4 linked regions of the Homo sapiens genome follow. The protein of the gene in region 3 interacts with the protein of the main gene of each other region in a pairwise test. Each region holds a gene or a part of one and is shown on either strand. Other genes may lie near its edges.

Region 1 (8,118 bases), on a different chromosome or scaffold from region 3:
ATGAAGTAACTTAAGCCCCATCTTGGGATAAATTTGCTGGGTACTGAACAATATTGTTAGCTGCAGTTGCAAGCAGGGAGGATATTCAGCTGGGGCACTACAGGGTGGCTGGCATTGGTTGTTTATGGCGCCATTGGTTCTGATTGGTTGGTACCTGTATTTTACAGATAAGCCATTTTAATATTATCTCTGGTAAATATTGAGTGTCTCAGGTATTGCCTGATTTTTACCTATGGGGTGGGATCTTCTCACTTAGATTGAGAACAGTTAGGCTATTGAGGTGTATTAATTTGCTAGGACATAAAAAACACTATAGATAGCATAAACGACAAACATTTATTTTCTCACAGCTCTGGAGTCTGGAAGCCCAAGATCAAGATATTGGCAGGTTTGCTTTCTCCTGAGGCTTCTCTCCTTAGCTTACAGATGGCCACCTTCTCACTGTGGCATAAATGGCCTTTTCTCTACACACATTTTTGCTTTCTCTTCCTCTTTCTCTTCTTTTTCCGTGCTTTTAGAGACAGGGTCTCACTCTGTCACCCAGGCAGGAGTGCAGTGGTGCAGTCATAGTCTGTGGCGGCCTTGAACTCCTGGGCACAAGCAGTCCTGCCACCTCAGTCTCCCAAGTAGCTGGGATGACAGGTGCATGCCACCATGCCTAGCTAATATTTTAATTTTTTGTAGAGACAGGGTCTCACTATGTTGCCCAGGCTGGTCATTGGTCTCTAACTCCTGGGCTCAAGTGATCCTCTTGCTTTGGTGTCCAAATGCTGGGATTACAGGTGAGCACCACCCTGCCTGGCCTCTCTTCTTCTTATGAGAACAACAGTCTTATTGGATTGTGGCCCCACCATTATGACCTCATTTAAACTTAATTACCTTTTTAAAGGACTTATCTCCAAATATAGTCACAATGAGGATTAGAGCGTCAATATAAGAATTTGGGGGAACACACTTCATTGTGTTATATAATAGAATAGATTTCAAAGCATTTTTTTCTTTAGATTTCCAACAAAGTGATAACTAGTACAGTGTGTACATGGCCAGAGGATGGGGTGGAAAACATCTGCTTGGCTTCTATGACCCAAAGTGTCCCAATCTGATTTCTTTTTTTTCACATATTCCACATGCCCTATTTCTTTTTTCCTCTTTCCTGAAGTGGTAATTTACCACCTGTGTGAAAACAACACAATCCCTTACTGCATTTCAAAGGCACAGAAAGTTTCTGGTAATGTGCAGAGTGAGTTAACTAAGACGAGGGGTAGTTTGCCGGGGGTTGGGTGGGATTGGGTAGGGTGTGACCTGGTTTTAAAGAATTAATTTACGTTAATTACATTGGGACTTTGCTCCCTTGTGCTCCTTGCTCTTCCTGGGCCTCAGTTCTTTGCTCTTTCCTTTAGGGAATTCCTGGCTTCCCTTTCTAGGAGCCAAGGTCTTTGGAATAGAGGGTGGTAGGCCAGTCCTTTATCTCTGCTCTGTTCTTCCTGCCACTGAGTGAGGCACAGATGGAAGTCTCACTCTTAGAAAAGAGAAATAAAAGTGATCCCTATAACAGAAAGAGAAGGGCTGGATGTGCTGGTTCATGCCCATAATCCCAGTACTTTGGGAGGCTGAGGTGGGAGGATCACTTGAGCCCAGGAGTTTGAGACCAGCCTGGGCAACATGAAGATACCCCATCTCTAAAAAAATAAAAATAAAAAATAGGCGAATGCGGTGGTGCGTGCCTGTAGTCCTAGCTACTTGGGAGGCAGAGGAAAGAGGATCGCTTGAGCCTAGGAGATTGAGGCTGCAGTGAGCTGAGATTGAGCCACTACACTCCAGCCTGGGTGGCAGAGCGAGACCCTATCTAAAAACAAACAAACAAACAACAACAAAAAAAAAACAGGGAAAAACCCTAAAATGTTTTAATTTCAGTAATTGGAGAAAATGGAAGACCAAAGATTATGGTGATAAGGGGAGTAGATATTTTATTTTATTTTTTGAGATAGGGTCTCACTCTGTCACTCAGACTGGAGTGCAGTGGCTCCATCACAGCTCACTGCAGCCTTGACTTCCTGGGCTCAGGTGATTCTCCTGCCTCAGCCTCCCTAGTAGCTGGGACCACAGATGCCACCACACCTGGCTAATTTTTGTATTTTTTGTAGAGATGAGACTTCACCATGTTGCTCAGGCTGGTCTCAAACTCCTGGGCTCAAGTAATCCTCCTGTCTTGGCTTCCCAAAGTGCTGGGATTACAGGTCTGAGGCACTGTGCCTGGCCAGGGATAGATATTTTTAAAACCGCATATTTAGCTTGTGATCTAGAGAGAATAAGAGATCTCAGTTGAGAGGGCAGGAATAAAATACGTTCCACAAGGCAATACTGAGTGACTTAGAACCTATTCCTGCCACTTTTTTTTAGTTTCCTTGATCTTGCGGGTGGAGGGTAAGTGTGTTACTAAGTATGTTCCTGGACAAGGAGTCCCTCTGAAGATAGAAGTGATGAGAAGATAGAAGAAAAGGTAATAAGGCATTAATGAACTCTAATCACACTAAGATTGATGATCGTCTGGTTCCTGTCTATAGGAATGCTACAGGAACTCTTTTACCCTAAAAGTAAATAATAAAGCACAGTTCCAGTTTCTTTTATGTGGATACAAGGTGGCAGTGACTAGAAAAGATAAGAACAGTGCTGTGCTCTAGCATAAAAACGTAATTATGCTATGCAATATGGTAGCCACTAACCACATGTGACTATCGAGAAGTTACAATGTAATTAGTATGATTAGGTAACTGAATTATTTTTATTATATTTCATCTTAATTAATTTTATTACTTTTAAATAGCCACACATGGCTAGTGCCTTCTGTTTTGAACAGTGTGGGATTCATTGGTATTGATAGGCTGGATATACCTCTAGTTTTTATTTTGATTCAATTTATGGTTAGGTGAGTCTAGAAAGAACAAAAGAGAAAGAGACAATGGAGATTAATCATAATAGCCAGCATTTAATGTGTGCTTATTATATATCCAGGCATTTACCTAAACATGTAAAAGGTATTCTGTATAATCCTTGCAAAAATACTAAGATTATTGCTATTTTACAGATGAAAAAATTGAAGCATAATAAGAATTTTACTTGCCTAGAATCACACGAGTAAATAAGGGGTGAAGATGGCATTCATACACAGGTAGTTTTATTAGAGCCCATTCATTTACACTACATAGATTCAGGAATGAGGTGGCATGGAGTGACTGGGGCCATGGTTCCCAAACTGTGCCAAAGTACAAGCTCACAAGGGTATTGTGGAATATTTTTAATTTTCAGAGGAAACACAGCAATATTTTATATTTCTTAAACACTGTGTGACCTATTAACTTGAGGTGATTCACAGTTGGAACATTAGATTGTGCTACATTCCTTTTGATGACAATATATCTGGCCAGGTGTGGTAGCTCATGCCTATACTCTCAGCACTTTGAGAGGCCGAGGTGGGCAGATCAGTTGAAGTCAGGAGTTCAAGGCCAGCTTGGCCAATATGGCAAAACCCCGTCTCTACTAAAAATACAAAAATTAGCCAGGCATGGTGGCAGGCACCTGTAATCCCAGCTACTCGGGAGGCTGAGGCAAAAGAATGGCTCAAACCCAGGCAGCAGAGATTGCAGTGAGGCAAGATCGTGCTACTGTACTCCAGCCTGGGTTACAGAGTGAAACCCTGTCTCAAAAATATATATATATATAAAGACAACATATCTTTACAAAAGATGGTTTTAGAAGGTCCCTCTGATAAAAATTAAGTATTAAGTAAAAAAAAAAAGTACTGTGTAAAAATCAGCATGGAACAGAAAATGAGGGTGGCAGCATTGGATTCCTGCATGTGAGAAGTTGAGTAGTGCCAAACAGATGTACATATCCCGTAAGTAACTGTTTGTGGTTATTTAAGAACGAAATTTTTTTTTCAATTTGTGTGCATTGTTATTTTCAAAGTGCTAGTAAGTTCTCAGGAACCAGCTACTCACTCTGTTGCCCAGGCTGGAGTGCAATGGTGTGATCTCAGGTCACTGCAACCTCCACCTCCCGGGTTCAAGCCATTCTCCCTGCCTCAGCCTCCCAAGTAGCTGGGATTACAGGCGCCTGCCACCACGCCCAGCTAATTTTTTGTATTTTTAGTACAGATGGGGTTTTGCCTTGTTGGCCAGGCTGGTCTCCGACACCTGACCTCAGGTGATCCACCCACCTCGGCCTCCCAAAGTGCTGGGATTACCGGCGTGAGCCACCGCGCCTGGCCTTTATATATAAATTTTTTTTTAATTTTTTAAATTAAAAATTAAATGTAAATTTAATGTAAAAATGTAAATTAAATGTAAAAATTAAATTGTAAATGTGGGCAGAAGTAATAGTTGTATTCTACCAAAGACACGCTATTTATGTTATATTCTGGTACCCGTGTATTCCGATAACAGAATTTTCTTCGTGGGAGGAGTCCTCTAGTTACCTGAATTGCTTGGATCAATATTGCGCAGATCAAGGGATTATCTGTGTCCCTACCCACCAAATCCATCCTTATCCTTTCTGTCGGCATCTAGGACCCCGGAATTCTTGCCTGAGAACTTTTTCTTCTCCCGGTCTGGGCCTGGATGTGCTCTCCTAAACCCTGTATCCTCCAAGTTAGCACTGTTGCCGGGGGCGACCCAGCTTCCCTTGTCCAGGGAGCAACTCAGACACAGTCTCGCTTCATTTTTATTCTGGGGTTGTACAATCTAAGGTATGAAATTTTTCCTTTTTGAATCTCTCACGGTTTGCTATTGACACAGCTGGAATGAGGTTGCAAGGAGAGGGCTGGGGGCTCTCCTCCCTACTTCTAGCCCTATTTCCGCATAGGCCTTCTTGCTGGGAACTCCTGCCCTGCGGACTGGAATGGGTACCGAGATGAAATGCTGGGTGCGCTCCGGCTCCCCCCGCCCGCCCCGGGGCAGAAGGTTTAGGGCTGGGAAGAACTCTGATTAGGTTTACAGCCCAGGTTCAGCCGATTGAATTAGGGTGTGTCACCATGGAGACAGGGCCGGCCCGCGTGCTCGCTTGCCATTGGCTGGGGACTCCAGGGCAAGGGATATAAGCCAGAGCCTAGACCAGTGAGCCAACTGTGCGAACCAGACCCGGCAGCCTTGCTCAGTTCAGCATAGCGGAGCGGATCCGATCGGATCGGAGCGGATCGGAGCACACCGGAGCAGGCTCATCGAGAAGGCGTCTGCGAGACCATGGAGAACGGGTGAGGAGGGCACCAGGCCCGCAGGACCCTTGGGGAGGGGCAGGTGCTGTGACCCGGGAACCTGGCACACTGGGCCCAGAGGGAGCTGGCGGAGGGAGCGAGCGCCCAGGGGATGCAGAGAGGCCTGGCACTGAGCCTAGTGTCGGGAGCAAGGCGGCAGAGTCATGCGGCAGCCAGCGCGGGCAGGGACGCACGCGGGAATCGAGCTGGGGTGGCGCCACCGGAGCAGGAAGGGGACAGGTCGGTGCGGTCTAAGCTACTCCGTAAAAGCAGCCGTTGTGTGTCTCCGTGTGTGTGTTAGGGGAACAAGTGGAGAGTGAGTATATGTATATATCCCTCACTCCATACCAGGAGGAGGTCTCCTCACCCCCTGCGCTCTTCATAAATTCCCATGCTAGGGTCTGGGTAAAGCTGCGAGGTACTTTTGGTGCTCAAATTCGGAGTTCCTCCTTTAGAGGCAAGATTACTCACCTCCTTTGCCAGTTGCACTCCTCCCTTCCTTCCAGACTGGCAGTATGATTAACTCGGTGGGAAGTGACTGCTAAGTGGAGACGGAAATCAGTCACCGAACTGAGCAACAGTCCTGTGCTCACTTCCCCCACCCCACGCCTTTGAAAACTCTTCTCTCGGCTTGGGTCCTGGATATCCCAGTCCAAGTGACCTGCATTAGGCATCACAGTTGCTTTTGGATGCCCAGGGAGCCAGGGTGTTCTTGAGGGGACTGATAGCCAATGAGGAAGTGCTGTGAGATGTGGCTAGACATGCCATGTGGCGGCAGCTTCACACATTCATTTCCTTTGCACCTTTTGGGGATGCCATTTGATTAACATTTTACCAGCTTAATTGCTTCTCTCCATTGTCCTGTGGCTCCGTTGACCAGCCCCCAACCTACCTGATCCAACTGCTTCCCTGAGGGTAGCCTGGTGTATTGTGCAATCATGTCTGGTTTCCCGGGCTCTGCTTTCCAAGTAAAAAATTTCCTGTGAAAGCTTGGTTAGTTGTGTTCAGCTCTGTCACACCTCATTGCCACCTCTGAAAGCAACGTTTGGTCTTCCCAGATGGATGTGAGAGAACTGGACTTGGAACTGGGAGAAAAGTAACACGGGTTGATTCTTGCTAGTGTAGGGGTTCTGGGTAAGTGCCCTGAGGTTTCTGAAGAGCAAAGATCCTCGGTGGAGAGAAAGGAAACTGGGAGGAGGCAGGGAGGGGGAAGGACAGGAAGAAGACCACAGGCAGGTGGAAAGCAGGAGAAAGATTCAAATACTTTGTGTAACAGAGCCATAGGTCTTTGGAAGTTGTTAGCAAGTATTCAATTCATTTTCAGATTGAGCCTATAAGATAGATGGGGCCAATTTACATCCCTTGTTTATACCTGAGAAAATAATTTAAAGCACAAATTACATGCCTAAAAAGACAATATTGGGACTAGAATCTAGGTCGAATTCTGCTTCCCTCCAGACCAGCAATTCCTAAACCTGGTTTTATTTTATTTTATTTTTATTTATTTATTTTGGAGTCGGAGTCTCGCTCTGTCTCCCAGGCTGGAGTTCAGTGGAGCGATCTTGGCTCACTGCAACCTCTGCCTCCCGGGTTCACACCATTCTACTGCCTCAGCCTCCCGTGTAGCTAGGACTACAGGGGCCCGCCACCACGCCCGGCTAATTTTTTTTTTTTTTTTTTTTTTTTTGTATTTTTAGTAGAGACGGGGTTTCAACATGTTAGCCAGGATGGTCTCGATCTCCTGACCTCGTGATCCGCCCACCTCGGCCTCCCAAAGTGCTGGGGTTACAGGCATGAGCCACCGCGCCCAGCCCCTAAACCTGGTTTTAAAATCAAAATTACATGGGCTTCAGAATCTGTTTTTTGTGGGGGTTTTGTGTGTGTGTGTGTGTGTGTTTTTTATAGGGTCTCACTCTGTCACCAGGCTGGAGTGCCAGAATCTGTTTTTCTAACAAGCTTCTGCTGAGAATTTGTGTAGTCAGTCCTGGTTTAACCTTTGACAACCAGTACTGTGGACTGGGTCTGCTTTTTTGTACAGCAGTTTATCTAGTTTTTTGTCTGGAATTAACCCCCTTGTGATCCAGGGAGCTAAGAATGGCACGTAGACCTCTACCAGGGGTGGTCCCATTGTGTTTTATTGGTTAAAACAAAAAAGAAATGTAGCCCTTAAGTCTTTGGCTGAGGAAGGAACTGGAGGAATGAGGGTTCAAAAGGAAATTTGAGTTTATCTCTGCCTTCATAGTAGTTGGTCTTAATTACATTTTGAATGTCTTTGGGGAACAGGTAAGGTAATAAGGGGGATTTTACTAGGTGGGCACCACCCTCAGGAAGGGCTTAATCCCATTTTGAGTACTCTTCTTGGGCTCCCTCCTGGCCAAGCCCTTTTACCCTCCCTAATTTGATTATTTCCTTGCACTTCCCCGTACACTCTGGCCCCTTCCTCTCTAAACCTTTGTCATAAGGATAAGTATGCAGCTTGCCAGTGTTCAGTGGATCCAACACTGGAGTTGGGCCTGTTAGTAGAAACAGGCTTTATTAACTTTTGCCAGGCTCTAGAATGGAGGTAGTTTCATATCAGACTTGTAGTGGGCTTGATTCAGAAAGAAGGGTGGCTGAGTAGATGGAAGAGCATAGTATGGCCTTTCCCTCTGTGCCAGCTTCTCCGTCCCTGCTGCCTCAGTATACCTGCCAGCCTTTTTGCACCGAAGGTCATTTGTCTGTGATGCCCTTGGAATGGGAGCAGAATTCACCTTGATATTTTTTCTCCCCCAGATACACCTATGAAGATTATAAGAACACTGCAGAATGGCTTCTGTCTCACACTAAGCACCGACCTCAAGTTGCAATAATCTGTGGTTCTGGATTAGGAG
Region 2 (7,764 bases), on a different chromosome or scaffold from region 3:
CTAAAGGATCAGTGGCGTAGCCCATGAAGTGCATGGGCTCAAGCTCACCACGGATGATTGACAGTACCTATCTCATAGTGTTTGCTGGCAGTTCCTGGCATATGGAAAGCCCTTAAATGGCAGCTACTCATATTCTTAGTCCCGATTCCGTCACTATCCCTGGACAAGCCATTCCATCTGAGTCTCGGTGTCCTTGAAACAAGGAACCCTTCCAGCTCTGCGAAGTCAGTGATTCATACACACTCAATGGGCAGGTCTAGGCTCTGACCAGGCACATGTGCAGCCCCAACAGGCCCCTCAGGGCCAGTCATTCCAGTTCTCATTCTAGCTCTTCTTCCTCTGTGTGAAGGAGGAAGTTCGTACCGATCACCCCTTCTCACTGCACCTCAGTTTCCCTCCCTTCCCTCCCAGAGTCATAAAGTGAGGTCAGGTGTGCAACATGCTTGGAATTCCACCAAAGATCTGCACCCACTCAATGTCAGCCTGTGCTGTGGTCAATAACATCCTGGCTGCTGCATTCTCCCAGCTGACCACATGGCCTCCATTGACCCTTCACTTCCTCTCCTAACTCTCTCAGGACCCTCTTGCTAAAAAAGCAAAAGATATATTTTCTCTCCATGTATTACATGTTTTAATAGAACAGAAATAATCTCCTTGGGATTTTGTCAAAAACCTTTAAGTAACTATCTTGACATCTTTGGGGTTTAAAAACAAAAAAGAATGTAAATTCCCACAGCGAAACCTAAACTTGCTTGTGTGCACTGTTCTCCCTCTGTTTCAGAGGCTATTATCAAATTAACAATTTAGGCCCGGCACGGTGGCTCACATCTGTAATCCCAATACTTTAGGAGGCTAAGGTGGGAGGATCACTTGAGGCCAGGAGTTTGAGACCACTCTGGGCAACACAGTTGACATCCTGTCTCCAGAAAAAATTTTTTTAATTATCTGGGCGTGGTGGCATGTGCCTTTAAGTCCCAGTTACTCGGGAGTCTGAGGCAGGAGGATTACTTGAGCCTGGGAGGTCGAGGCTGCAGTGAGTCATGATTGCACCACTGCACTCTAGCCTGGGCAACAGAATGAGAACTTGTCTCAAACAAACAAACAAGCAACCAAATAAAACAATTTAAGTATTAGATGAAAGTGCTGGCAGGGCCACCAGAGGGTGGCAGGAGCAAAGTTTTCACTGATCTCTGGAGGGACTGACCACTATTCAGTACTCTGTACTATTCCAGCATGAAGTACACAAGCAGGTGGGCTTTTCAAAGGGGAGGGAAAAGCACCAAGAAGTTAGGGGGTAGGGGGAGGAGGGCTTATCATTTTGAATTGTTTTTATTTTATAAGTATGTAAAACATTTGCCTAGTTCCAAAATCCAATTTACAAAACAAGGTACTTTCAAAGATACTTAGTTTCCATCCTTGTCCCTCCTCCCCATTGAGATAATATTTCCAATAGTTTTTTGTATATTCTTCCATTTTTTCAATATAAACAAGTATACACAGGTGTATATAAACATATTTGTTTTATATAAACATGTGTATTATGTATATAACTATGTATATGTGCTTATATCCCCCTATAGGTAAAAGGTAGCATGGAATACTACACATTGTTCTAGACTAGCGTGGCCCAATAGAACCTTCCAAGATGACAGAACTGAATCTTTATTTAATTTTAATCCATATAAATTTTAATAGCCTCATATGGCTACTACACTGGTCAGTACCATTCTAGATACCGCATATCAGAGCTAGTCCTCATTCCTTCTTAGAGCTACAGGATGTTCCACTGCAGAGACGAATCGGTTCATTCACAATGATGAACTCATCCTCTACTGACGAACACCTGAACTCTTTCCTGTGTTTTGCTATTATAATTAGTGTTGCAACGCATGGCCTATTGTCTACAACTATTCATATTTTTGCCAATATATCAAGATACAGAGAAGTGGAAGTGGTAGATCAATGGGTAAATATAACTGAAATTTTGCTAGATATTGCCAAATTCCCTTCCAGAGGTTATATCATTTGCATCAAGAATTTTTTTTTTTTTTTTTTTTTGAGACGGAGTTTCACTCTTGTTGCCCAGGCCGGAGTGCAATGGCACGATCTTGGCTCATCACAACCTCCACCTCCCAGGTTCAAGCTATTCTCCTGCCTCGGCCTCCCAAGTAGCCAGGATTACAGGCATGTACCACCACAACCAGCTAATTTTGTATTTTTAGTAGAGACCGGGTTCAAGATTTTTTTAAGCCAATATATCCACTACATTTTTGGGTTTTGCTTGCTTTTTTCCTGAAGTAACATACCTTCTATCCATAAAGAAGTCAGAGAAGAATTCTGCAGCTTCATTACTGTCTGCTAGACGCTAAGGGAAAAGAATAAAGAAATGGCAGACAGAGGCCAGGCATGGTAGCTCACGCCTGTAATCTCAGCACTTTGGGAGGCCGAGGAGGGCAGATCACGACGTCAGGAGCTTGAGACCATGCTGGCCGACATGGTGAAACCCTGTTTCTACTAAAATACAAAAAAATTAGCCGGGCGTGGTAGCGGGCACCTGTAGTCCCAGCTACTTGGGAGGCTGAGGCAGGGGAATCGCTTGAACCCGGGAGGCAGAAGTTGCAGTGAGCTGAGATGGTGCCACTGCACTCCAGCCTGGCGACAGAGCGAGACTCTCAAAAAAAAAAAAAGAAAGAAAGAAATGGCAGACAGAAAGTAGAATGGTGGTTGCCGGGGCCAGGAAAGGAGGGTATGAAGAGCTAGTGTTTAATGGGTACAGAGGTTCACTTTGGGAAGCTGAAACAGCTCTGGAGATTCGGCTAGTGACAGCTGCACAACAGTGTGAATGTATTTAATGCCACTGAACTGTACACTTACAAATGGTTAAAATGGTAAATTTTGCTACGTATTTTTTACCACAATATTTTTAAAGAGAAATGGCTAAATTCTAAAATCCTTAACCTGACACATGAAATCAAAAGGAAGGGATAAATAGTAGCAACACTTCAGTCCAGTGGGTAATGTCCCATAATGATGCACTAGTGAGAACTTCTAGGCCAGTGGTTCACAACTGGAGGGCGATTTTGCCCCCACAGGGCATTTAGCAATGTCTGGAGACATTTTTTTATTGTGGTAAAATAGATAAGTTTGCCATCTTAATAATTTTTAAGTGTACAATTCAGTGGCAATAATTACATTCACAACCATCACTACCATCTGTTTCTAAAACTTTTTCATAGCCCCAAACAGAAACTCTGTGCCCATTCATCAGTAACTCACTATTTCCCACTCTGGAGACACTGAATATCATGACTACCTGGTGTGAGGGATGCTATTGGCATCGAGTGAATGGGGGCCATGGATGCTACTCAACGTCCTACAATGTACAAGACAGCCCCTCAGGACAAAGAATTATCCAACCCAAAAGGTCAACAGTGCTGAGGGTGAGAAGCCCTGCTTGGGGCTGACATGAGCATTTGGAACAGAAACTGATCACACCACACAGGCTCTACTGTAATGCAGAGGAAAGTTGTGCAAGAACAGGAAAGCCTTCATTCAGATACATCCAAGTAAATGCCAGGGGCCCCCAACAGATTCCTAAGCTGCTACTCCTCCTGGCAGGGCTCTCTGGGAACGCAATGATCCCCACTACTAACGCTCAGGTTATCAAGAGGATGCCCGAGGGTGAGGTCATAGCAAAAGTGGCCTCTTTGGAACAAAAGAGAATAGGCACTGGTAAGAAACGTGACTCTGAGGAATTGGAACCTCGTGGTGGTACCAGCTTTGCCTCTGAACTCTCATTCAACAAACCAGGAATAGCCGGACAGCCAATTCATAAGCACATTGCCAAAATGAGGCTATGTAGCCCTTCCAGGCAGGCGGCCACAGCCCAGCCAAATCCCAGTTCACACAGCAACAGAGGCAAAAAGCTGAATGCGTCATCAACAGATACAGTGGTGGAGGGGTGGATCTACAGCAAGTATGTAGGGAAAATATCCTGTATAATTCAAGATTATCCAAAAACTTGCTTAGGAAACAAACATATGGGTTCTCAAAAGGTTCAAAACAGTATTTCCTCCAATTTTGGTGAAGCTCGCCTGAGCACCTGGTAAGCAGCCAGCTTGTATTCAAGCCATGCTATACGTAATTGTGTTTTTATTTATTTTTTAGAAACAGGGTCTTGCCCTGTCACCCAAGCTGGAGTGCACTGGCATGATCATAGCTTACTACAGCCTCCAACTCCTGGGCTCAAGTAATCCTCCTGCCTCAGCCTGCTGAGTAGCTGGAACTACAGGCACATGCCACCACACCCGGCTAATTTTTTAACTTTTTGTAGAGATGGGATCTCGCTATGTTGCCCAGGCTGGTCTCAAACTCCTGGCCTCAAGGAATCCTCCAGCCTTGACCTCCCAAAACACTGGGATTACAGGCATGAGCCACCGCGCATGGCCAAACCATTTGTTTTTAAACACTGTACCTCATTCAGTGTGGCAGAATGCCCACACTTTGAAAGGTATATAGAAACAAGAGTCAAGGAAGGGGCTGGCAGATTCACAAACCCCAGGCACAGCCACCCAGGGACAAATACTTGCTGAGTGGAAAGGCAGACAGAATCACCTGAACTACTTTTCTTCCTATCTACCGCTCCCTTCCCCCTGCCCTTTATTTCTCCTCAAAGCATGTAGCTGAATGAGCAAAGGTGCACATAATAGGCCCCTACAGTATTTACTGAGCATCTTTTATGTATCAGACACACTGAGTGATTCTGTGTGGTCAGAGAGCTGCTGGATAAAACCTATCCCAGAACCAGCGCTTCAGGCTGCAAAGCCAGGATTAGGCCCTACCATTTACCAAGTAACCCTGGCTTCCTGTGCCTATACTCTGGTCAAGGAGCCTCGTATCCTGGCTCCTTCCAGAGACATTCCTGAAGATGCAGGGTGGTCCTCAGACCACCTCAGTGAAGGCAGATAAAGCTGCATGGAGCGAACACTGAGGTTCGACCGTGCTCTACTGCAGCCTGGCCCCAACCTCTGGGGTTAAGTGGGACCCTTCATGTGGCATTCAAAGTTCCTTCATTCACCCACCAAAAGATTCTCACAGATCCCTCTGCTCCAGGTACCAGAAACATCTATCTGGCTCTATCTTTCCCAGGGAGAGGAAAACACACTCTAGTTTACAAAACCTAAACTCAGAGACCTATGTTCTCCTGGCATCATGAACCACCTTCCCCACTTGATGGGTTGAGGAGGTTCTCTGCCAGCCTTAATGCCTCCTACTCTAAAAACTGACCACCTCGTTTTCTTCCTGAAAAGGACAGGTCTAGTCATTGTCATTTTCCTGTTTATAGAATACGCAACATGGAAATTAAAAAGTCCCAATCTTCAACTGTTACAAACCTTCAGCCTGTTGAAAACTACCAAAGCTCCAATCCTTCCTCATGGCAGGGAGGCTGTATGCAGCAGGGATTAGGAGTGTGGGCTTCAGTGGCCGGGCACAGCGGCTCACGCCTGTAATCCCAGCACTTTGGGAGGCCAAGGCAGGTGAATCACTTGAGCCCAGGAGTTCAACACCAGCCTGGGCAACATGGCGAAACCCATCTCTACTAAAAACACAAAAATTGGCCGGGCGCAGTGGCTCACGCCTGTAATCCCAGCATTTTGGGAGGCTGAGGCAGGCAGATCGCGAGGTCAGGAGATCAAGACCAGCCTGGCCAACATGGCGAAACCCCATCTCTACTAAAAATACAAAAATTAGTGGAGGGTGCCTGTAATCCCAGCTACTTGGGAGGCTGAGGTAGGAGAATCGCTTGAACCTGGGAGGCAGAGGTTACTGAGAGCTGAGACTGTGCCACTGCACTCCAGCCTGGGCCAAAAGAGCAACTCTGTCTCCAAAAAAAAAAAGAAAAAATTAGCTGGGCATGGTGGTGTGCTCCTGTAATCCCAGCTACTCGGGAGGCTGAGTCAGGAGAGTCACTTGAATCCAGGAGGTGGAGGTTGCAGTGAGCTAAGATCATGCCACTGCACTCCAGCGTGGGTGACAGAGCAAGACTCTGTCTTAAAAAAAATAATAACAAACAACAAAAAAAAAACACTTGAGCTTCAGAGCTGGAACTAGACAGACTTGGGCTTGAGCCCAGCTCTGTCCCATGCTAACTGTGTGATCTCAGGCAAGTTACTTAACTTCTCTGTGCCTGGTCTTTTCTTAATTGTAGCCTCCTCCCAGTGTTGGGAGGGTTAAATGAGGTAATTCAGGTCAAGGGTTTAGCACAGAAACTGACCCATTCAAAGTGCTCAATCATATCACCATTAGGTACCTTTGCTATCAGAACACGGATGCAGAACAGCTTCTCATTTCATCCTGAAAGCAGCCTGAGACCTACACCTTCATGGTCCTCGCTGTCACAGGTACTAGATTTCAAAGGATGTGGTCAAGGTGACACAGCCACTCCCTTGTCCACAATGCATGCCCATAAATAGTAGTAGCTCTTAGCTAGCCACCAGATCTGCTGTCACCTCTCCCCACCTGAGCACAGGCTCCTGAACCCTCCACAGGGAGTGTGGTGGTTAACAGTGGTTCAGACATTCTGTGCCTCAATTTGAGTACAGGCTCCTTCATTCTCTAGCTGCATGACTTCGGGGCCACTTAACTTCTCTATGCCTCAGTTCTATCAGCTGTAAAATGAAGATGATAATCGCACCTTCCTTGGGATCACCTAGAACAGTGCCTGGCAAACAGAAAGCATTACTTTTTTTTTTTTTTTTTTTAAAGAGACAGGGTCTCCCCGTGTTGCCCAGGCTGGAGTGCAGTAGCCATTCACAGCGTAGTCATAGTGTACTACAGCCTCAAACTCCTGGGCTCAAATGATCCTCCTGCCTCAGCCTCCTGAGTAGCTGGGACTACAGGCACATGATACCATGGCCTGGCTTTTTTTTTTTTTTTTAAACAAAAGAGATTGTCTTTGGGACCTCAAATTCAGCACTGTCTCAAACCCAACTCATTTCAGCATCCCTTACCCCAGCTTCCTCTCCTACCACTAACCCGCTGTGGGGAATTTGGCTGCCCCCAAACATTCCAGGTCCTTAAACACTTGTGGGCCAGCCCCCATACCCTAGGTCTGGCAAGCCCCACCCAGCTCTGAGGTCACTGCCACTCCGGAGACTTTCTTTCTTTAGCCCTTTCCGCAGTACCTGCAGCAAACTCCTCACTGTTTCCCATCAGCACACTGTCCACTCTCAAGTGTTGGCAAGGATGATGCCTTCCCCTGTGGCCCCAGCCATGGTAGTGTCTGATACACAGCAGGCAATGAGTAAGCAAATAATTTGGCATCTATCGGACACACTGAAAATACTCATTGGATTTTTTTTTTTTTTTTTTTCCGAGAGGGAGTCTTGCTCTGTCGCCCAGAGCTGGAGTCCAGTGGTGTGATCTCAGCTCACTACAACCTCCACCTCCCAGGTTCAAGCAATTCTCCTGCCTCAGCCTCCCAAGTAGCTGGGATTACAGGCACGCACCACCACGTCCAGCTAATTTTTGTATTTTTAGTAGAGACGGGGTTTCACGATGTTGGCCAGGCTGGTCTCGAACTCCTGACCTCGTGATCTGCCTGCCTCAGCCTCCCAAAGTGCTGGGATTACAGGCTTGAGCCACTGTGCCCAGCCAATACTCATTGGATTTAAAGGTAATGTACCACCTTTCTCAGTTAAAACTGCCCAGGTTCCAAATACAGCATCTCGGAGGGAACTGTGGGTAGCTAGACTAGGGCAGCAG
Region 3 (7,764 bases):
GGGAGTCTTTATTTTATAATATGATTTTTTAAAATTGAGAATTAAAGATTCCTAATCTTAAAAGATATACTGCTGAGTTAAGTTTAATGACAGAAAAGAATAATCAATTATAACTAATATCCCTGAGTATTTCTGGCTATTTACATCAAATAGCCTATTTTGTGCATCTGAAATAATTTTTAAAAAATCATTCTGAGGTATCATATCATTATAGTTGCTTGAGAGTTTAGTCTTTCTTGTGCAAATAAACTATTTCAGCCAAGGAGTCCATTAAATTGAAAGTGCAAGCTAACAGTCTAAGCAACACAGACTGATTCTGATCCTGTGATGTGTTCAAAGTTTGTGATATCCACACATAGGGTGCACATCAGCAACTGGGATAAAGGAGAGGATGCTGTGACTATGTCATACAGATAACTGGATCATCCAATGATCTGCTTCATCACTAAAATTAGCAGCAAGGAAGGAAAAGTCCCTTTACCCATTTGGGAGAGAGAAAGACCAGGCCAACTGTTGGATGCCCCTATTCCTCCCTGCCATCCATGGAAGCCATGTCACGAAATCCTCCATCTTTGTATAGACACAGGAGTCTGTGAGCATGCTAAAACTAATACAAACGGACTTAGAGCCACCATATTACTGGTTTTAACCTAAATAAATATGTGTAATGAGCAAAATGGGCAATTAAAAATTCCTAAATAGTGGGCTTGCTCTTATGTCTGTTTATAATCTTCAGGCTTTTAAAAGAAAACAAAACATTGCTGAGAATTTTAAGACAAAGCCATAAAATACCAATCCCTCCAGCCCTCTATAATGTTAAAGATCAGCGAAAATAGTGGAACTTCAATTGTAAGCAGCTTATTAGCACTCTCTCCTTTTTCTCCCTAAAATTATTTTAAAAAAACGTAGTATTCTTTACATCCGTATTTTGTGGAGGCTTAAAGGAGGTTGGTTCTTCACAGTTTCCATATTTCCTTTTGTGTGTGTGCATGTGTGTGTGTATAATAATAATAATAATTATTTTTTTCAAGAGACAAAGTCTCACTCCGTCACCCAGACTGGAGTGCAGTGGTGTGATAATAGTTCACTGCAACCTCGAACTCCTGGGCTTAAGCAATCCTCCTGCCTGAGCCTCCCAAGGAACATGGACTACAGACATGTGCTAGCACACCCAGCTAACTTTTTAAGTTTTAGTAGAAAAAGGGTCTTGCTCTGTTGCCTAGGCTGGTCTTGAACTCCTAGGCTTAAATGATTCTCTCACCTCGGCCTCCCAAAGTGCTGGGATTACAAGTGTGAGCCACCGTGCCCTGTCTCCTTATGTACATTTTGAAACTTTAACTTCTTCTAAAATTGTGTGAGAGACATTCTAGGGTTTTTATCCTGGGAAAGAATATGGGAATGTTAACATTGAGAATTATCTCCTAGATATTGTTTTGCAGTTTTCTCCATGTTTCCTTACATTTTTGTCAAAGTCTATAACAATGACTTCTCTGTTGTTTTTGGTTGGAGGATAGTGAATACTGTTTTTTCACACAAAGAAATATGGAAAAAGCGTGTGTGTATGTGTTCATGTGTGTATGCGCATGTCTTGTGTGTTTGTCTACATATGCATATCTTGCAAGTTGCATTTAGTTGTCTCCCTTTGACAGCCTCTCCCACTTCTATTCCTTTGTTTGGTCCCCACTGTTGCAATCAGTATTGGTTTGCAGACTTTGGAACTTTTTCATTTTTGACTTCTCATTTACTGAGCAAGGAATGACAGGAGCCATACTAAAAAACATTCCAGAGGGGAAAACAGATGGTTTCTTCATACACACAGGCTGTTGTCTAGGCTACGGATACAAGCAAGGGCTTGGATTTCTGTTTTGCTGGGTTACCTTCCCTCCAATGCAAGTACCCATAAGGGATTGCTCTGCTGAGCTCCAACCTCGTCTGCATCTGTTCAACAATGCTGTAGGGTAAGTGCAATTCATACCATAGGCAACTTCCATAATTACTATGATTTAGAATGGATTATTTCATTTTCACTTGAAACTGACCTAAGGATTAATGTATTACAATAATTACATGATTTGTGGTAAAGGAAATGGGTTTTGGCTTCAAGAGAAGATTGCTGAAAGCAGGCCCCACTCTTTCAAGTGCATCCATTTGTTTTAGCTCCTCTAGGATGTGAGGGTTTGGCTTTTAGGAACTATGTTCCATTAAGTAGGTATCTCTTTTAACCAGGATGGTGTTATGTGTAGGGAAAAACAAACCCACCTGTGGAGTTGAGAGCATGTCCAGGCTCCAGGAACACATTTTGCCATCAGTGGAGACAGTGATGAGGTTATGAGCATTCTGGGTCCCAACAACATTTACACAGTACACGGGATGCTGCAAAAACATAAACAAAGAGGATCAGAGACAGATCCAAGAGGAAATGCTTACATTTGAGTGTCAAACACATTACTCTAAAACAAGGATTAAAGAGTAACATAATCCTACTATAATACAAGCGTCAGGTCATTTGCCGCTTTTGATTTGAACCTGATTTCTTTCTAAAAGCTCTGGCAGCAACACATAATAGTGGAAATACTTATAAAGCTTCACCTTGCTCAGTCAGAATGCAATGCAGTGGAACAGAAGGACGCTAGAACAAATGAGGTTTGATGGGGCAGAGGCAATGCAGGGAGGTGAATTTGAACTACTTGAATAAGTCTCCACCGCATAGTTTGGCTTCTAAGCTCAACAAGAGTGATGGAAAAAGACAGTCTTCAAAAGGGTAGAACTACTGACTTTTGGAAGGAATACATGTTACTAAATCTGGAGTTTAATGCATTATAGTCACAATGCCAAACATTTGTTAACATTCTTTATAAAAAGTGGTTAATATTCATAACCATTTTAATCTGGGGGAGAGATACTAGTGGTGAGATTATTGGCACAATGTACCTGGTGAGATAAAATTAGGTTCTTCTATGTTACTGCAAAATCTAGGATAATAATATATTTATTTTTCAAAATACCGTTTGCAGTAGTATAGAGGCTTAGATTTGGCCAGGGCATTGAGAAAGGTCATTTATACATCCCAGGAACCATACACAAGATGTTGTAACCCTCTGTCATACTCTAGTGGGTTATCCCACTCTGCAGAATTCTAAACGGTAGGCTAAAATCATTTGCAGCTGTGTATTAAACACAAAATGGAAGGTTACTATGAGCAGAACCTACAGCAATTTGGGTTAGATTTCAGGCAGTTCAGCCACCAGTGGCCAAACCACACTTACTTGGTGCTTCTTTGTGCAAATAGCTGACAGTATCAGTCTTACCCTTGGTGAGTTACTGTCCATAATACCTAGCCACAACTACAATGAAACAATATTTAATATTGGAAAGTTGCTATTGTATAAAGGATGGTTCCCAAACTATTATTATCATATAAACTGCTGGTCAGAAGGAGTGGTAATAATCATCTAATGTAGCTACTCATCTGCCTCAACCAAGAGGTGGTCCAAACTCTGCTTAAACACCTTCCTTAAAGGGCAGCCAGTTTTCGTAGTATCCTGGGGGAGTTTTTTCTTCCACTAATGGGGATAAAGAAAGTTCAAGGAGATACTTCCAGTGCAGTGCCCTGTGGGACCAAACCAAACTAATCAAGTCAAAACAGTACAGCTTTTTGAATATTTATAGATAGTTGTTCCCTGTTACTCCTCTCCCTGCCAAATCTTTTCTTACCCAGACTGTCACTAATTCCTTCATCTGTTCCTTGGGTACCTGGTTTTCAAAACCTTTCCTATCCTGGTGAATCTCTTTTGAAAATGCTGTATTTTGTCTGATTCCTCTTCCAGTGAGGTTCTGAGAATAAAACAGAACTGTCTACCTATATTCTGACCAGCAGAATATAGAAACCTGGGTAGCATTGAATTATCACTTCTCATGTGATAAAAAATATGCCTGCATTTAATGCATGCTAAGATTACATCTGCTTTTTTGACAATTATATCACCTCTTTCCCCCGTGCTGATGGACAGTCAGCTAAGTCCCTATGTCTTTCACACCATGTCCCTACTGAAACTTCCAAATGAGTCAGCCTTAGTGGATCTGCACATAGTAAGTACAGCAGAGATCTGAAGCTAAATGTTATCCCAATCAGTTCTCTAAGTATCAGGAAGGCTGACTGGTTGTGGGATTGTAGGCAATGCTCTTTCCCAAGTCTCTGGTGTATGTAGAGCCCCAGGCAGTGTATTATCAAGCCCGGAGCCACACAGCATGCTAACCTCTGTGTGGAAATCAAATGGAAGATTGGATGTAACAAATTTTCACCTGAAAATGGTATAGACTTAGTAAAACTGAAGAATGGGAAGGCAGGGTCCAAATACTGTTATGAACCTGAAATCCATCTTGTTTTTCAACAAGAGTCCAGTGGGGCTTCTTTGATAACCACTGAGCATCAACACAAATCATTAAACACTAATGGATTAAGACTCAGAAAGGTCCAGCAGAGAAAGAAAGCAAGTCTAGAAGAATGTGTAGAGCCATGTGCCCGGAGAAAGTGTGTGTGGCAGCCCCTCCCAGGCTTTAATCAGCACTACTGGCCTGTGCTTCCATGAGTAATAAAACTCAGTTTAAGAGAAAAAAGAGGTGTAATGAAACCAAAACAGAAGCAGACACTGGAGCATGCCTACACACACACACACACACACACACACACACACACACACACACACACAACTCTACCATTAAGGAAGAAGAAAGCTACAGTATACCCATTTTTCCAGTATAGATGCCAGATTGTTTTTATTTATCTTGGAAATAAACTTACTGTGTGCCTGAGGGATTTTGTTTTACTTATGATTTCCTGTTGTCTCAAATGCATATGTGTGGTGGGTGTGAAAGGAAATTAGTGAGTAATCTGTGGTGGGCCTCTTTTTCCTTTTTGATCCTGGTACCAATCAGTCAGCCAATAGTGAAAGTTGAAAGACAGTCACAAAATTAACTGTTCACTTTTAGCTATAGATTAGAGAAAACAAACAAACAAAATCCCCCTGAAAAAAACCAAAACAACAACAACAACAACAACAAAACAGCAAAAGCGAAAAGTGGACAAGTTTTGTTTCTTTTTCCTTTCTTTTTCTTTCTTTTTTTTTTTTTAGAGGAAGTCTCCCTCTGTTGCCCAGGCTGCAGTGCAGTGGTAAAATCTTGGCACACTCCTACCTCTGCCTCCTGGTTTCAAGCGATTCTTATGCCTTAGCCTCCCAAGAAGCTAGGATTACAGGCGTGCACCACCACACCCAGCTACTTTTTGTATTTTTAGTAGAGACAGCGTTTCTCCATGTTGGCCAGCCTGGTCTCGAACCCCTCAAGTGATCCACCTGTCTTGGCCTCCCAAAATGCTGGCATTAGAGGTGTGAGCCACCATGCCTGGCCTATTTTATTTTCTAACAGAAATAACATCAGTAAGTTTGATAATAATAGTATTTTAGTTGTGATGATCACACTCTAAGTTACTCACAAAAGAAATGTTAATTTTTTGGAAGAGCTCCTGGTTTTGAATTTTCCCCAAAAGCTTACTGCTAAATGTTCTAACATTTGGATTTACAATTTTGGAAATTTCAGAAGGTATGTTCAGAAATACACCAGCCATCCAAACAGGGCCAAGGCATGGTTTCACACTACTTCACCAAACACCTGCATCAAGCCCACCTTCTCCTGGGCCACAATTTTCTGTTATTAGTTTGGGGAAATGGGGCAGGCAAGAGCAATTTCCCAAGATTCCCAAGAACTAGTTTCACCTGCAAGTGTCTTTGGCCCCAGTCAATCAGAATTGGGGCTGACTTGGTATTTGTCATTTCCCATTGATAATCTTACAAGAGTAGGAGATTTTTCCTCCTCATGGACTTAGCTAAACAGCTGGCAGTCCTTTTTCATGCCAGAGTGCTTTTGAGTCCAGCATATGAAACAAATGCAGCAAGCACATTAAGGAAATTGAAAACAAGAGTAAAGCTGTATCCTTGGGCATAATTTGGGCATTTCAGAGAAAGAACATCAGTTACCCTGAGTGTCAAGGTAGCAAGGATTGATGGAGACACGCCTGTCTTCTCATTCCTCTGAACAATTGCTGTACACACCTGTCATTCTTTTAAAGGAAATGACAGAGTAGTTGTCTTATGAACACTATACTGAACCTCTTCTACTAAATTATGGGTAATGGTTTTGAGATGTTGACTTTTAACCCCAGGGATTATATTGTCACTGTAGACTTTATGTTGAGACTTACACCACACATTCCAGAATTTAAAGTCAAAGTACTCTCTCAAATCACACATGGAAAAGGCCAGTTGGCAAAAGTCCCATATATCATCCCTTGATGTGAAATCCTTACTCTTCAGGATCTATTTGAAAATACGTGTTTCCACCTTATAATGTAAATGCATAGGGTTTCTTTGGGAAAACAATTCCACAGATGCCTCTTCCAAGGTTTCTCTTCACTGGTGGCCTTTGGGAGAGCCAAGGAGATCCTCCCTACATGCTAGCACATGTAGGTTATTAAGAGACATCCCTAAAGCCAGTGCTTCCTTCATCTACTTTTCACTCAACTTTTAGCTGGTCAGGATTCAATCATAATAAAGTAGATCCTCCTAACTTGGCATTACTGAAAACATCCATACTTTTTTGAGTAGAGTTATTTTCTCTTTCAGGGCCTGGCGGCTCACAGGGATATGGCAAAAGTTTGCATTACCGTGTGTGCAGCAGCTGATAAGGGTGTCCGCTGCACTGGAGTCCTTCGATGACTGCGATTGTCCCAGAGGACAATCTGGCCCGAGTAAGTCCCACCAACCACCAAGTTAGGATGGAAACGGGCGAAGCAGACCGACATCACAGAGGACTGTCAGGGAAAAGGAGAGAGAGAGAGAGATGCAATGTGAAATGGTTGTAGGTGACTTGTTTCTTCCTGAAAACAGTTCATCACATAAACTCAACACATCCTGGAAAACAAAAAAATAATTTAAAGCTGGGACTGTAAAAGTGCATAGTTACTAAGAAATTTTGTACATAGGCACAGGACTTTCTTTGGAGAGGCTGACCAATGGTTACTGCTTGAAATCTGAAATTTGAAGTCCTGTCCATTTTATCAAATAGGTATGAAACCTATCTTAAGTACATCATTGTTTTGTGGTCTGTAAATCTTGCTTTATGGACATTTCCCATTTGTCACATAGAATTGCAACAGAACTAATATTAATTCTCCACTAAAGCCTTTACTAAGCAATTCTTTACTTTGAGAGCATGGCCACATCAAGTTACACAATTTGCAGTGTTGGTAAAGGCAGAGTAATTCTAGATTCAAGGCCTTTAAGATGAGGTCTTCTTTTTGTTTTTCCCTTAATGTAGACTTCCAGGAAGTATACTGACCTCAGACTGATCCAATTGGCTCCTCCTAAAATTCCCTCACCTCCCATGGGCATTCTTCCTGATCTTAATTCTGCCCACTTCAGAAAATTCTTAATGTTATTCCTTGCCTATTTTAACAAACAACCAGAAATGGATCTCAGTCCAGCTCTGCCATGGTCTGTCATAGTCTGTCACAAATGTGGTTTCTGAAGCTCCATAAAAGACTACTGGGCAGTACATTTTGTAGGAAATTACTTAGCTGAGATAGAACCATAATGCACTTAAAGTCAGAGAAGTAACTGTTTTGCATCTGCTAAGACCATTTTGATTCCTACGGTACTTTTCATATTTGCATTTATAAGCTAAAGTAATTGTTTTTAGTCAATACATTTC
Region 4 (8,061 bases), on a different chromosome or scaffold from region 3:
TATATTTACACTGTTAGAAACATGTTTCTTTTCCACTCTGGATGTTTTCTTCAACGCAGAGGATTGTTCTTTAACATTCCTGGCCTCTTGTCCTGTCAGTTATTCCTCCCCATGGAGGTGGAATGAGTTACCTGGTTGGTGGGTGATAACCATTGTTCTAACATCTCATTTGGGAGTCTCCCAAATGTGTTGAACTTGGGCTTTAGTTTCTCCTTCCCTCTCCACCCAAACCAATGAAAGGCACCAGCCTGAACAAGTGTTTCTCTCTGCTGACTCAAACTTTCTCTTGGATGACTCTTCCCAGGGCTGAACTGAATGGGAGTTAGCAAAACAAGGTACAATCATCAAACTGGTTTTTATCAATAATAAAGGTGGTATTTTGTTCTCTTTCTAATGGCTCTTTTTTCTTTTCATTTGGTTCAGAACTTAAGGAAGAAGGCACTATTTAAATGGAATCCCAAATAGCCCAGCATTCTTTCTTTTATGTTCCATCAACCAAGGACAGTCTTTCCTGACTTGCCACTTTGAAAACTAAGATCACTCCCTTCTCATTACCTCCACTCCCTCTTCCACCTCCCAGTTTCCCTCATTTGTGCTTTTACATTGTAAAGGTATTAAAAACCTTTGCTTTCTACTTTTAATAATTAAATACTCTCAGGCTACATAGATAGAATGCATAATTCTGAAGTATTCAAATATGGCAGGATTTTCAGGTGCCTGTCTATTCCTCTCAGACCTTGAGTTAATTCTAGCTGTGTAAGGCCAGACCTGGGTGTCAAAAAATACCTTTCCCACACTGTGGTCTGTATGTGATACCTCTAAAATAATGAACGGTCCCCTGCCAGAATTAATTCCCAAAGGTAATTTCTTTTCTATTTGCCTAAAAGGAGTTTCAAATATTTTTCTTAAAATTTTGATTCACTATCATATCAATGCTTAAAATATGTTAAATGATCATTTTTTCCAATTATATTGGGCAAAAAAGTGTACATGCCCAAAGGCAGATATTTCTAGGGCTTTTGTTATCTATTTTATACAATATACATATATATTATACATATACTTTACATTATAAAAGTTGACGTGTGTACATATATATGCGTACATATACTTTATAGCATTAACATTTAAAATAATGTTTGCTTTCTGGAATAAAAGTTATTTTATCCAAAAGACAGGGCATCAATTTTAAACCAGTTTTCTAGACTAAGAAAATCCTTAAGCATCTCTTTCAGAATAAGCCTCAAGATGCTGATAGCACACAACAAAATATAGAAGGACCCCTATAAAGAGTTAGTGGATAAATATTTAAAATCTTGTTCTTGGCCGGGTGTGGTGGTTCACGCCTGCAATCCCAGCACTTTGGGAGGCCAAGGCGGGTGGATCACCGGAGGTCAGGAATTCGAAACCAGCCTGACCAATAAGGTGAAACCCCGTCTCTACTAAAAATACAAAAATTGGATGGGTGTGGTGGCGGGCGCCTGTAGACCCAGCTACTCGGGAGGCTGAGACAGGAGAATTGCTTGAACCCAGGAGGTGGAGGTTGCAGTGAGCTGAGATCACACCACTGTTCTCCAGCATGGGTGACAGAGCGAGACTCCATCTCAAAAAACAATAAAATAAAATAAAACAAAACAAAATATTCTTCTTTTAACAGTAAGGTTTCTAAGTTTGTGCTGAAACTCAAAATATAGCTTTTAAAAATCTCCACCAGTGCAGCAAGCTTCAAGAGAAACAAAATGTATGACTCACCTCTTTGACAATATTGTGGGCTTCCTCAGCATTGAAGCCAACCTAAAGGGAAAACAAAAGGTAAAGCTGCTTTCAACACAGGCTTACAAGTATGACGCTACACAGAATATCCTAGGCTGGCCTAGACAGGTGTTAAAGTGTTAAAGGGCATCAGGTCTACAGAAGGGGCCAATCTTGCCCCTAAACACTTAAAAATACTGAATGCTTTCCCTACCTACCTCCCGTGAGGTCTGGGGCAGAGCCTGCAAGTCTACATTTTTTTTTAAAAAAGTGCTTTATACTGGTGATTCTAATGAACATCCTAGATTAAGAATCATTGTATTGTAAAACGTAGGAAATAAGCAAGAGGTGACTATGAGGATGTTATGTGTCATAAGAATATAGAAATGGTTTCAGCTAAGTGAGAGAATGAAGTGGTCCATATGAAGAGAATGCTTAGTAGACTATTTTCAATTTTGTTTTTAACTTATGCTAGGCAAAAATTTCTAGGCAAAAATTCCTTTCCCAAATTAAAGATTATGAAAATACTTGATAACTCAAGATTAATATCACTTTAGTACTATAAAGTGGTCTGACAACTTAGTCTTTTCTTTGGAGTCCCCATCAATAACAGGGAGATAACAACTGACATCATGGGTTTCTGGTGAGGGTTGGGAAAGCCTGAGTCAGTAAGCAAGGGCTCGTAATCCATAAAGCACCTCCTTGCCTAATCCTGGCAAGCATTACCGGGAGCGGGAATGGCAGTGCCACCAGGACCCCGAGACTCCGAGCCATGGGGGCTGCAGCACCCGCGCTGAGGAAGCCAAGGGACGGAGGCAGCAGCGGGAAGACCCGTTTTCGAGGCCCGCCCGGTAGGAGGGCGGCGCCCGTCACCCCATGCCCACTCCTCGCACCCAAGTCAGGCCTCGTCCTCCCAACCCTGCCCCGACCCCACCGTCTGATCCGCGCGCTCCTGGCCACCCCTCCCACCCCGAATCTCAGGACTTTGGGGTGGGGAGAACGGGTCGGGCGGGGCGGATCCCGGGCCCAGGGGAGAGGACCCGGGCTCGGAGGACGCCGCACCCCAACTCTTGGGACCGCCCTCGCTGGGAGACCACCCGGCAAGAGCCCCGCGCAGAGGAAGGCGGGAGTGGGGGGCGCTCCCAGGTAGCCAAGGGGCGGTACCTCGTCGCAGTGGCGATGGTACTCCTCCATGGTAGCGCCGGCTCTCCCTGGGGCGGAGCGACACGCCGGTAGAGCACCGCGGCCGCGCACTGGCCTCCGGGGAGGCCCCACCCCCGTTTATGGCCTAGGGCCTTTCCCTACGCAATCCCCGCCTTTGTGTCGCAGTGGCGTCACCTGGCAGCGCTGGGCGGGCTTCGGGCAACGCCAGGCGTCACTTCAGGCCACGCACTTTTTCCTCGCTTCCTCTGCCCTTTCTGGAAACAAGGGATGAATGTAAAGAACTGGGAATGGCGCCAGTGTGGATCAGATGGGGTGACCTAGTGGCAGTTAGTCTAGACTCCGCACTAGTGGTTGAGTGCCCACTGCTGTGATTACTTGCACGTATTTGTTCATTCACCATCATGTGGCACATAAATGTAGTTAATTTCGTGGTAAACCAGCCACTTTGATTTGTCCACTTACTAGCTATGTTACTTGGAAAAATTCACCTCCCACAGCTTCAGTTTTCTCATATGGAAACTTACCATCATACCTATTTCACTACTGGTTGTAAGGATCTGATGAGAAGCTGTATACACGGCTCCTAAAGTAGATGCTTCTCAACAAGAGAACAATGACTACATTTTAAAATAAATGTAGTAATTTTAAATTAGTAATTTTAAAATAAATGTAGTAATTTTAAATTAGTAATTTTAAAATAAATTACTAATTTCCAGATGATCCTAGACACTTCCTCAAAACCTCACAATAAGTCAGAGGAGTTAGTTCTTCCATCACTGCTTTTATCAAGATGAAACTGAGGTATAGAGAATTTAATTTGCCCAAGGTCATACAGCCAGTAGGGTGTAGAAAAGGGACTTGAGCTCAAGTAGTCTGATAGCAGAGCCCAAGCTCTTAACCACTGTATTACTTTCCTATTGCTACTGTAACAAATTACCGTAAATGTAGTGCCTTAAAGAAACACAGTCCTGTTCTCTTACAGTTCTGTTACCAGTGTAGGGTGTCCAGGTTCTTGGCTCTTTGAACAAAGAATTGGACAAAACGCACAAACAAAGCAAGGAAAGAATGAAGCAACAAAAGCAGAGATTTATTGAAAACGAAAGTACACTCTACAGGGTGGGAGCGGGCAGAGAAGCCGCTCAAGGGCCGGGATCCAGAATCTTCTCTGGTCCAAATACCCCCTAGAGATTTCCCATTGGCCACTTGGTGTGCACCCCATGTAAATGAAGTAGTGGCCCACAATCAGAGGCTGAAGTTACAAAGGCCACACTCCTATGCAAACGTCTGATTGGTTGCAAGAAAGCAACCATCAGAGGCTAAAGTGAAGTTACAAAGTTGCACTTCTATTCAAACAAAGATTTGGCCCATAATCAGTTTGATTGGTTGCAGACAGCAACCAATCAGAGGCTGAAGTGAAGTTACAAAGTTCCACTCCTGTGCAAATGTCTGATTGGTTGCTTTTTGCTCTTTGGTTGCAAAAAGCAACCAATCAGAGGTACTTTAAATTTCCCATCTGCCCTGCAGAAAAGGTGGGGATTTGCAAAGGGAATAGCCTCTGGTCCTTTTGTTACTTAGGCATGGAAGGTATGGAAGGTTAGGGTTTTCCTTTTTTTTTTTTTTTTGAGACGGAGTTTCACTCTTGCTGCCCAGGCCGGAGTGCAATGGCGCGATCTCGGCTCACCCACGGCAACCTCCGCCTCTCGGGTTCAAGCGATTCTCCTGCCTCAGCCTTCTGAGTAGCTGAGATTACAGGCATGCACCACCACGCCCAGCTAATTTTGTATTTTTAGTAGAGACGGGGTTTCTCCATGTTGGTCAGGTTGGTTTCGAACTCCCGACTTCATCGACCTCAAGTGATCTGCCTGCCTCAGCCTCCCAAAGTGCTGGGATTACAGGCGTGAGCCACTGTGCCTGGCCAGGGTTTTCCTTTCAATTTAGTTCTATGAAGTAAGCGTGAAACAGTTTTAAGTTCCCTGCCTCCTGACCCTATTCTCCTGCCTCAGTTCTGGAGGTCAGAAGTCTAAAATGGGCCCATAGAGCTGCATGCCTTCTGGAGGCTCCAAGACAGACTCTGTTTCTTTGCCTTTTCCAGCTTCTAGAGATTGCCTGCATTCCTTGGCTCATGACCCCTTCCTCCAAATTCAAAGCCAGTAGTATCTTTTCTCCTCTCTCGCTTCTGCTTCAAAGGAAGTGTGAGGCATCTCTATAAACGAGAGATGTATGACTCTTGCCCTCCTGTTTCCCTCTCAAGACCCTTAACTTAATCACATATGCCATGTGTCTTTTGCACTCTGTATCATATTCACAGATTCTCAGAATTCAGATGTGGACAAATTTGAGGGGGAGCATTATTCAGCCAACCACAACACTTTTCTATTTTGCTCCCCAGAATCAAAGTTGGAAACCATTAGTCTTCTAGTCCATCTCCCTTATTTTACAAGTAAAACTGAAGCTGAGAAGATAAAGTAACTTCTACAGGGCACATAGGTGTTAACTGGACTCCTGGGCTTCTGAACCTCAGGCTCTTATTTTATGAACTTAGAACCAAACAAGGCTGTTTACTTGATAGTATGGTGTTTGTTATTGGTTCTCCTAAGTTGTGGATCATGCAGGGTTACTGCAGAAAAGTGACTGTAATTCATAGAGGAAGCACATCCTCTTTCAAGAATTTTTTTTACCAAAGTTTTCATCCTATGAGCAACTCCGGCAGTCTATTCATGAGAAGGATTCGTAGTGTCTTTGTGAACATCAGTTTTATTTCCCTAAAGAACTGTTTCTATGCCTGGGTGGGTTAAACCCTGAAGTTACCTAATCTTAATACTGCAAGAGCTACACCAGCACATCTCAAGTTTGTGTTATGTGATCATTCATGATGCATATAAAGTGAGATGAAGAAGTGTTGTTCCAGTTACCATTCCTGTGTAATAAATTACCCCAGAATTTAGCAGCTTATTTACTATATTATGCTCATGGATTCGTTTAGTCAGAAATTTGAACAAGGCACAGCAGAAATAATTTGCCTCTGCTCTGTGATGTCTGGGGCCTCAGGTGGGGAGACTCAAAGACTGGAGGAAATTCAATGGTGGGGACCAGAATCATCTGAAGACTTGTTCATTCACATGTCTGATATCTGGGCTTGGATGAATAAAATATTAGCACTTCCAACTGGAGCAACAACACATGGCCCCACCGAGTGGATTGGCTTCTTACCATCATGGCAACCTTAGGGTAGCCAGATCTTTTACATGGCAACTCAAGGCTCCAAGCATGAGGGTTCCATCGAGCATGGCAGAAGATATGTCACCTTTTATCACCTAGTGTCACGAGTTACACAGCAGCCCTTCTACCATACTCTAATCATTGAAACATTCACTCAGATTCAAGGGGAGGGGACACATAATCCACTTCTCAATGGGAGAAGTGTCAAATAATTTGGGGCTCATGCTTTAAAACTACAAGTGGGTTTATTAACTAGCATCCTGTGGTTGCAAGTAACAGAAGACCCAAATAGGATGAGCTGAAATAATGGCATTTATTTTTTTATATAACCAGACTGATATGGTTTGGATCTGTCCCCAGCAAATCTCATGTTGAATTGTAATCCCCAGTGTTGGAGGTGGAGCCTGGTGGGAGGTGATTGGATCATGGAGGCAGATTTCTCATGATGGGTAGCACCATCCCCTCAGTGCTGTTCTTGTGAGAGTAAGTGAGTGAGTTATTATGAGATCTGGCTGCTTAAAAGTGTGTAGCACCTCCCTCCTCTCTCTCTTCTTCCTGTTCTAGCCATGTAATATGTGCCTGCTTCCCCTTCACCTTCCACCATGATTGTAAGTTTCCTGAGGCCTCCCCAGAAGCAGGAGTCACTCTGCTTCCTGTGCAGCTTGCAGAACCACGAGCCAACTAAGCCTCTTTACTTCATAAATTATCCAGTCTCAGGTATTTCTCATTGCTGTAAAGCAATGAGAGAATAGACTAATACACAGACATACAGAGGCAGAGATATTCCAGGTTCGTTTAGTTGCTCAACAAATTTTGGGGCTTCTGTGCTTTTCATCTTTCCATGCCAATATCCTCAGCATGTCAGCAACATTTAGCCTCATGGTCATACACGGCTGCATTAGTTCTGGTATCGCTAGGAACAAAGATATCACGTTCAGTGACTAAGATGAGCATTTTCTGGGGTTGATCGGATTTTCTTAGGAAAGAAAATCTTTATTTCAAGTCCTCAGGAGTTTTCTCCTCAGGTTCCAGTGGCCAAGATTGGGCCACGTGACTCCCCACCGGGCAAAACATATGGGACAACAAATGTTTGTTTTTTCATTCTGTATGGTGAAAAGTGAGTTCTGCCAGCAAGAAAAAAAAAATTGATATAAAGTAAATGTTGGTAGGTCAGTCCTTTCCAAACTTTTCCATGCTATGGCCCACATAGAGGATAATACTTACATGGTACATTGAGGTAAACTGGAGGGGCTTGGTGGGCATCTGTATGGGGCTTGGTGAAAAAATATTTTCATTACTTTATATAATTATATGAAAAAATAAAATAGAAAGGGTGTTAAAATTGAATTTTTTAAAGCTTCCAAATAAAACCTCTTTCAATGCTTTAGTGAGACCCTCAATCTTGGTTTCACCCATATAATATTTTATATCTGGCTCTACGCATTGAACAGCCATAAGCAATTCCTGTTAATGAGTTTTTAATAATTAATTTTCCCTAAATATGAATAAATTATATTGTCTAGAAAGGTTTGCCATAGAAGCAGCTGATAAAAAACATTTGGACCCACTTTACAAACCACTAAAATTATATTTAAAGACTTCTGTAATGGTAGACTATGTAATTAGGACCATCTCTTTCACTGATAATTACAAAGGTTGGACAAAATATAATAGACATTTGCTCAAGGGAATTGGATTTTTTAACAAGATAGGGAAGAATTATGGATCTAAGACATAGAATAATGAAACCCAGAAAGATGAGCATGGCATTTGGGATAACTTTTTACCTCGAGGTGAGAAGATGTTAAGCCTTTTGCTTATGGGCCAAGGGGTAAAATAATCAGACTGCATGTCCTGCCAAGGAAGATGATTCTGGTAAACAGTCTTGCTTTGGGTTGAAACCCCATGGATTAAACCCTGGGAGTG

Evidence for each region.
Region 1: the proteins of DYNC1I1 (region 3) and PNP interact in binary tests that used the Homo sapiens proteins (3 or more experiments, as listed by UniProt).
Region 2: the proteins of DYNC1I1 (region 3) and FAM83D interact in binary tests that used the Homo sapiens proteins (3 or more experiments, as listed by UniProt).
Region 4: the proteins of DYNC1I1 (region 3) and DYNLT3 interact in a two-hybrid assay, tested with the Homo sapiens proteins (one study listed by BioGRID).

The regions. Positions count from the first base shown.
Region 1 is NC_000014.9:20,464,288-20,472,405, forward strand, and holds the start of PNP (purine nucleoside phosphorylase), read left to right. Parts: upstream 1-5,118; 5' UTR 5,119-5,237; coding exon 5,238-5,248; intron 5,249-8,020; coding exon 8,021-8,118. UniProt on the Homo sapiens protein: Catalyzes the phosphorolytic breakdown of the N-glycosidic bond in the beta-(deoxy)ribonucleoside molecules, with the formation of the corresponding free purine bases and pentose-1-phosphate.
Region 2 is NC_000020.11:38,928,788-38,936,551, reverse strand, and holds part of FAM83D (protein FAM83D), read right to left. Parts: intron 1-7,764.
Region 3 is NC_000007.14:96,027,276-96,035,039, reverse strand, and holds part of DYNC1I1 (cytoplasmic dynein 1 intermediate chain 1), read right to left. Parts: intron 6,866-7,764; coding exon 6,719-6,865; intron 2,374-6,718; coding exon 2,260-2,373; intron 1,959-2,259; exon of another isoform or gene 1,881-1,958; intron 1-1,880. UniProt on the Homo sapiens protein: Acts as one of several non-catalytic accessory components of the cytoplasmic dynein 1 complex that are thought to be involved in linking dynein to cargos and to adapter proteins that regulate dynein function.
Region 4 is NC_000023.11:37,844,565-37,852,625, forward strand, and holds the start of DYNLT3 (dynein light chain Tctex-type 3), read right to left. Parts: upstream 3,008-8,061; 5' UTR 2,947-3,007; coding exon 2,917-2,946; intron 1,795-2,916; coding exon 1,753-1,794; intron 1-1,752. UniProt on the Homo sapiens protein: Acts as one of several non-catalytic accessory components of the cytoplasmic dynein 1 complex that are thought to be involved in linking dynein to cargos and to adapter proteins that regulate dynein function.